Linked DNA regions of Homo sapiens. The protein of the gene in region 1 interacts with the protein of each later gene in a biochemical or structural test. Each region holds a gene or a part of one and is shown in the gene's direction. Other genes may lie near its edges.

Evidence for each region. Proteins that work in one complex are often made in the same cells at the same time.
Region 2: the proteins of PTX3 (region 1) and TNFAIP6 form a complex in vitro, tested with the Homo sapiens proteins (one study listed by IntAct).

What each region holds. Positions count from the first base shown.
Region 1 is NC_000003.12:157,439,701-157,443,458, forward strand, and holds part of PTX3 (pentraxin-related protein PTX3 precursor), read left to right. Parts: intron 1-2,665; coding exon 2,666-3,279; 3' UTR 3,280-3,758.
Region 2 is NC_000002.12:151,355,232-151,358,989, forward strand, and holds the start of TNFAIP6 (tumor necrosis factor-inducible gene 6 protein precursor), read left to right. Parts: upstream 1-2,360; 5' UTR 2,361-2,435; coding exon 2,436-2,529; intron 2,530-3,758. UniProt on the Homo sapiens protein: Major regulator of extracellular matrix organization during tissue remodeling. Catalyzes the transfer of a heavy chain (HC) from inter-alpha-inhibitor (I-alpha-I) complex to hyaluronan.

The sequences.
Region 1 (3,758 bases):
AAGAGGAAATCACTTAATTCGATTGCAGTAGGCACCCTCTTGAACACTACTTTTTTGTTTTTTTCTTTGAGACGGAATCTCGCTCTGTCGCCCAGGCTGGAGTGCAGTGGCGCGATCTCGGCTCACTGCAAGCTCCGCCTCCCGGGTTCACTCCATTCTCCTGCCTCAGCCTCCTGAGTAGCTGGGACTACAGGTGCTCGCCACCTTACCCAGCTAATTTTTTGCATTTTTAGTAGAGACGGGGTTTCACCGTGTTAGCCAGGATGGTCTCGATCTCCTGACCTTGTGATCCACCCGCCTCAGCCTCCCAAAGTGCTGGGATTACAGGTGTGATTGAACACTACTTTATTGAAACTTTATAGAGACTATATCAAATGCCCATGGATATGGTGATTTTTTTCAGTGATTTTTATTTGATTTTAATTAACACAGCTGGAAGAAAAGATGTACCTAGCAATTTCATTTGAAAATAGAATCACTGCCTCATTAAAAATTAATTTTAAAAAATCTTCAAAAGTTCAAATTATTTAGTGAAAAAGTATCAAAGCATGACAGAGCCAGTTTTGTGTTTTAGTATTGTAGTTACTTTTATATGATTATCTGAATGCCAATATTTTATTTGACTATCCCTAACACTAAAGGATAAGGTTCATATTTGTTTAATGTTTTCAGGATAGAGCCTACCCCTGAGCCACTTGTAGGAATCTGACATAGTTTACCACACTTTTACATGGATGTTTGGTTTCTGCAAGTTCTTTCTCTTTACCAGTTATTCTGGAACCATTCTGGGAGTTTGCTTTTCAAAGCTGTCTTATGGCATATCTTCTTTAGGTTGTTATACCTGCCCTAATTTAGGTGTTTTTAAAAAAATACCTACATACACATACACACATATATATACACACACATTTATATACATATATGTATGTATACATACATACATATCCATATGTATATATGTGTGTATATATACGTATACATACATATATATATATTTATGTATATAGATGCAGAGCTCACCTGTTCTTTCCCAGGGACACGTAAAAGGTTTTCGTTTCAGCATCTCCAGCTTCCCAAATGGCTAAGTCGCCTTGAGATGGACAATGGTGGAAACTTACTGAGCTTTCCACCTCAAATTTGAAAGTCCCCCTCCCAAGTGCTCTTTAGCAGAAACATGTTCTCCAACCAGGCCCCTTGAAAGAATGTACTTCTCTTAAAGATTTTCAATTACTGCTTAAATAGTAATTATAAGCATGTGGACAAGGTAGAATTTTTAAACACATTTTTGGTCTATTCAGCTCTTAAGTGCTACATACTTGCTGCTTACAGACTTGCAGAATATTAGGAGCAGAATGGAAGGGCCTTTTTTAGATAACGCTAAAGCCTAGAGGAAATTATGGTGCTCATCCAAAGTTGCATGGCTCATTAGTAGTAACACCATCTGGATTCTAGCCCTCCTAGAGAAATCTAGGGGTTCTATTAATAAGAGGCACTGTAGTGTGCTGATTAAGGGCGTGGCCTCTGTGACCAGACTGCAAAAATTCAAACTCTAGTTTTACTGCTTATCAGCTATGTAAACATAGATAAGTTACTTTTACCTAAGTTTTCTCATCTGTAAAATAGGAATGTAAAAGACTATCTCTTATGGTTGGCATAAGGATTAAAATGACAAACAAAATGATTAGAACAGTATCTGATACATAGTGAATGCCCAATAAGCTTAGTCATCATTATTATACATTGTTGCCTTTCAAAGGTAGTTTTCTAAAAACTCTGCAAAGTTTACAAATATCTGAGAACATTTGGTGTATTAAAATGTATTCTGCAGGCCAGGTGTGGTGGCTCATGCCTGTAATCCCAGCATTTTGGGAGGCTGAGGCAGGCGGATCTTGAGGTCAGGAGTTCAAGACCAACCTGGCCAACATGGTGAAACCCCGTGTCTAAAAAAAAAATACAATAGTTAGCTGGGCGCAGTGGTGTGCACCTGTAGTCCCAGCTACTCCGGAAGCTGAGGCAGGAGAATCGCTTGAACCTGGGAAGCGAAGGTTGCCGTGAGTCGAGATCGCACTACTGCAATCCAGCCTGGGTGACAGAGTGAGACTCTGTCTCAAAAAAAAAAAAAAATGTATTCTGCAATAACATCACTATCCTAGAATTTTGCTGAAAAATGCATGTTGGTAAAGGCTAAATGGAGCGAACTAGGTCTACTGAATTTCACAGGTTTATTATTTTAGGAACTTGGTGGTGGCAAAAAGAGAGAACCAGGTTGGGTTCTGAATTCTTGGAAATTATAGAATTATTGTCTGAAGTTAACTGATAGTGATTCAACTTTTTTAAAAAAAAGCAGTAACAAAGAAAATATGCAAATTGGAAGGGGAGGTAGTTATGGCTTTTATTATTTTGTGGGTTTGGACTAGTTGGCTCTTCTATTTGCGTGCTTTCTCTTCATTTAGATGCTTCATTGGATAAGACAATTGGCTTTCCTTTTTCTCATTTTCTTTGCTCTGCAGAGATTACAGTGGAAGCTTCTTAAGTCGTAATGTAGGGTTTCACATAGCTTTCAATTGTAATAATTAAAATTCTTATGTTAAATAACTAATGCCAGAATAATTCTGAATTAATTTATATTTTCTTTAATATTCTTCTTATTTTCTTGCTACTCTAGGTTGTGAAACAGCTATTTTATTCCCAATGCGTTCCAAGAAGATTTTTGGAAGCGTGCATCCAGTGAGACCAATGAGGCTTGAGTCTTTTAGTGCCTGCATTTGGGTCAAAGCCACAGATGTATTAAACAAAACCATCCTGTTTTCCTATGGCACAAAGAGGAATCCATATGAAATCCAGCTGTATCTCAGCTACCAATCCATAGTGTTTGTGGTGGGTGGAGAGGAGAACAAACTGGTTGCTGAAGCCATGGTTTCCCTGGGAAGGTGGACCCACCTGTGCGGCACCTGGAATTCAGAGGAAGGGCTCACATCCTTGTGGGTAAATGGTGAACTGGCGGCTACCACTGTTGAGATGGCCACAGGTCACATTGTTCCTGAGGGAGGAATCCTGCAGATTGGCCAAGAAAAGAATGGCTGCTGTGTGGGTGGTGGCTTTGATGAAACATTAGCCTTCTCTGGGAGACTCACAGGCTTCAATATCTGGGATAGTGTTCTTAGCAATGAAGAGATAAGAGAGACCGGAGGAGCAGAGTCTTGTCACATCCGGGGGAATATTGTTGGGTGGGGAGTCACAGAGATCCAGCCACATGGAGGAGCTCAGTATGTTTCATAAATGTTGTGAAACTCCACTTGAAGCCAAAGAAAGAAACTCACACTTAAAACACATGCCAGTTGGGAAGGTCTGAAAACTCAGTGCATAATAGGAACACTTGAGACTAATGAAAGAGAGAGTTGAGACCAATCTTTATTTGTACTGGCCAAATACTGAATAAACAGTTGAAGGAAAGACATTGGAAAAAGCTTTTGAGGATAATGTTACTAGACTTTATGCCATGGTGCTTTCAGTTTAATGCTGTGTCTCTGTCAGATAAACTCTCAAATAATTAAAAAGGACTGTATTGTTGAACAGAGGGACAATTGTTTTACTTTTCTTTGGTTAATTTTGTTTTGGCCAGAGATGAATTTTACATTGGAAGAATAACAAAATAAGATTTGTTGTCCATTGTTCATTGTTATTGGTATGTACCTTATTACAAAAAAAAGATGAAAACATATTTATACTACAAGGTGACTTAACAACTATAAATGTAG
Region 2 (3,758 bases), on another chromosome or scaffold:
GGGATTACAGAAGCAAGCCACCACACCCAGTTAATTTTTGTATTTTTAGTAGAGACGGGGTTTCACCATATTGGTCTGGCTGGTCTCAAACTCCTGACCTCGTGATCCTCCTGCCTCGACCTCCCAAAGTGTTGGAATTACAGGCATGAGCCACTGCATCCGGCCTGAAAGGAACTTTTATCAGTGTATCTTCTCTCAGCTCCTCATGAGGCTTATCCTGGGTGGTGTGTGCTGGAGGCTGGGCAGAGGGTGCTTCTTAGACAACTTCCAAGGTAAGTTCATAGGCAACATTTCCTTTGCTACTCTCTCTTTTCTTCTCTCTCGTCCTCAGGATTACCCTCTGCATCTTTTCCATATGAAAACCCCATTTCCTCTTTCCTTTATTGAATGCCCCTCAAAATCAGAACTTACATCATTAGGCATTATTCTCTATTTCCTTGATGATATGGAGGATGAGATTTTCAGACACTATGCAGAGGTAAGGGGAAATATTTATATTCTGCATGAGAGTTGGGAGAGGGGAGAAAGAAATCCTCCACCCCAGATCGGGTTAATTCATCAAAGCAACTCATTAAATTTTCGTGTTAAAAGAAGTTGAACATTCACACTTCGCTCTACTTGGAGCTTCATTAAAATGCAAATGAACACAGAAGGGTATCTGTTCTTAGTTATCTGGCCTAACTAAAGATTAATTGCAAACCCTTTCCTGAGAGTAATTTTTGATAAATGAGAACTAGGGGGAAATTAGGTGCTTGAGAGAGATGCAGAAAGGGCACAGCTGGAGGATGTGACAAGAAAAGAATTGGAAAGACTATGGGAAGGTTTTGCTGTAGCACTGCACAACTAAAGTTATATTTACTTCCTAAACCACAAACTTAAAATACGCATATAATTATACTTTCCAAAGAAATATCATGGTTTATTCCTTCCAACTACCTATGAATCTTGCTCTCAGTAACCATGCCTGTCTTCTCCATAGTCACACCCACCTGGTCTAAACTATACCTTTCTCTTTTGCAACAAACTTAAATTCACTAACCCTATCTGTGAACTTGGATACAATTCCCTCATCTTTCATGTGCCACCAGTCCAAAATAAAGATTTTCAATGCTAGTAACTTTATGTATACCTCAGTGAGCATCCAATAAATTCTGTACTCTCAGCCTACATCCCCATAACTGCTCTTTTGAGAAGAGATGAGACCAGAACACACCTGAGATGTTCAAAGCAAAGATGTCTAAGGGATTCAAAGCTAACTTCAAACCAGAGCATGTCTAGCAAGTTGGCTTTTTCAAAGAACTCCAACATCATTGGAGGGACTAAGAAAGCATGGGAGAAATGAATGCTATAATAGGAGTGAATGGGAAGCAATTTGAGACCAAAAGTAGAGAATCTAAGTAGCAAAAAATGACCAATTTTGTAAAAAAATCAAAAGTTGCCAATAAATGGCTATCAATGAACAATAGGAAATGCCATTAGCATCAGCGGTAGTGGGAGTATTATCAGATATGTTACCCAAGGATTCTACACAAAGGAAGAGGAAAGTTTGGGATATTTGAAGACATGATGACTTTACTGTAATAATTATTATCTATTACCTTGATCGTCTTCTTCAAAGTTAGAGTGGTCTAGGGAAGCTAGGGACAAGTTTTTATTAACTTTGTTAGTCTACCCACCTTTCTCCCAACACTTCAAGAATTTGTGGCCTGGGAAAACTGTGTTATAATAGGACATCCCAAAGCTGCTGGAACATCCTGACGCTCTGAAATTGAAATACTTTTCTGGGAGCTGATACATTTATTTAGCTGCTGACCATAACACACCAAAGACTGCAACAGACCCCACCCTGGAAGAAAAGCAGGCAGAGAATAAGGAAGTCATATATCACTGGAGAAAAATTAGGATTCTCCAAGCTGTGCATACTTTTTGTTTTAAATTTTTTACACAGGCTTGACAATGTTTAGAAAAGCCAGTCCAACATTACCAATAAAAGATTAGTGTTTAACCCCATATCCCATAATTGACACTGCAAATAAGACATTTAGGATTTATCTTGAAATTCCTACTGAAGTTCGATTTTCTTTTAATCACTGCTAAATCTGCATCAAGTTACACAAACTTTCTAACAGAAAAGTGTTTGTGACTAACAATAAATGAACTCCGTTCTTAGTAAGTTAATTTTAAAACATAGATGATCATTCTATCTCCTTAGTTTTGGTTGCCAATGCAAATGAGTCAGAGGATTTGCTTCAGACACTGAGATAATTGTGTAACTCTACAGCGGAAAATGCCATTGGAGAGTACTTGCTGACCTCACAGTTGAAAAAAACTATTTAAAAGATGTGGAAACCAGATGTTTCAGTCACATTTCAGCCACTGCTCTGAGAATTTGTGAGCAGCCCCTAACAGGCTGTTACTTCACTACAACTGACGATATGATCATCTTAATTTACTTATTTCTCTTGCTATGGGAAGACACTCAAGGATGGGGATTCAAGGATGGAATTTTTCATAACTCCATATGGCTTGGTAAGAACCTTCACTCATGAGCCTCTTGTTGAGAATGTCAATTCTTTAAATCATGGAGAAGGAAATTTAAAGCAGTAACTTTTTCTATTCTGTACAAGGCTGATGTTCTCAAAGAAAATGCTTAGGAAAGATAGCCTTTGGAATACATACGCTTTTTTTTTTTTAAGCGTTCTTGTCCTCTAAAATTTAAAAATAGCATTTTATAAAGTGAATTGTTCAGTAGAAAATAGCAGTTAATATTTATATTCAGTATGAAAATATATTTTTAAACTTTTCAAAGCAGATGTAGTAGTACAGTGAGGAGTATTTCTTTAACCAACTAGAAACTCCAATATAGTCTTCTGTTTTTATGTCAATGCATTTGCAATCAGATTTCAGAATCCTAACAGGTAAATTGGAGTCTACGAAAATTTTATAATAATTGCTTCATGGACTCTGAGCTATAGTCTATATCTTAGTTTTTTCAAACATTTTGACTATTTTGACCAAGCCAGCTTGCAGTACAGAAAAAAGTGAAAAATGTTTCTCCTTCTGAATGCATTCTTACCACTTTGATTCTTTCTGTTTCTACTATCCATATAAATACTTTTCTGACCCTTTTGTTAGACAAGGAAAGTTTCTTTTGTTATTTTGTTTTGTTAAATGTAAGGAATGAGACAGGCCAAACAGTGAAGATAAACAATAGATCAAAAAAGGAAAATGCAGAAAATCCAAAACACCCCTTAGATTACAGTATGCTAAACAATGCTTTAATTCTCATGATACAAATTGATATTGCTCTATGTTCATTATTGTGTTTAATAGTAAAAAAAAATTGAATTTCTTGGGGAAAAATGCATAGATTCTTGCATAGAATAAAGAAATAAAGAGAAGGCGAAATTAACCTAGATTTTGATTTTATGCTTTCTAAACAGCACAGTTGTAGAATATTTTCCCTTTCAGCATGTTTCTCTCTGGTAATAACTGCAACCATGCGGATTTCATTAAAAAGCCTAATTTGTAATGCACAGCCTTGCCGCCTATTTTTTTCAGCTTGAGCCAGTGAACTAATTTCACTGTGATCCATTTGGCCAAGACGGGATCTGAAATTTAGTAGAGGAATGAGCCCATCTCTTTATTTTAGTTGAATACAGTCAAATATAGGAAATACACTCATATTTGTCAGGATTTTTTTTAAATGTCATAAAGCTAGTAAGAATTAAATCCAGGCAGATAAACTTTGAAATATT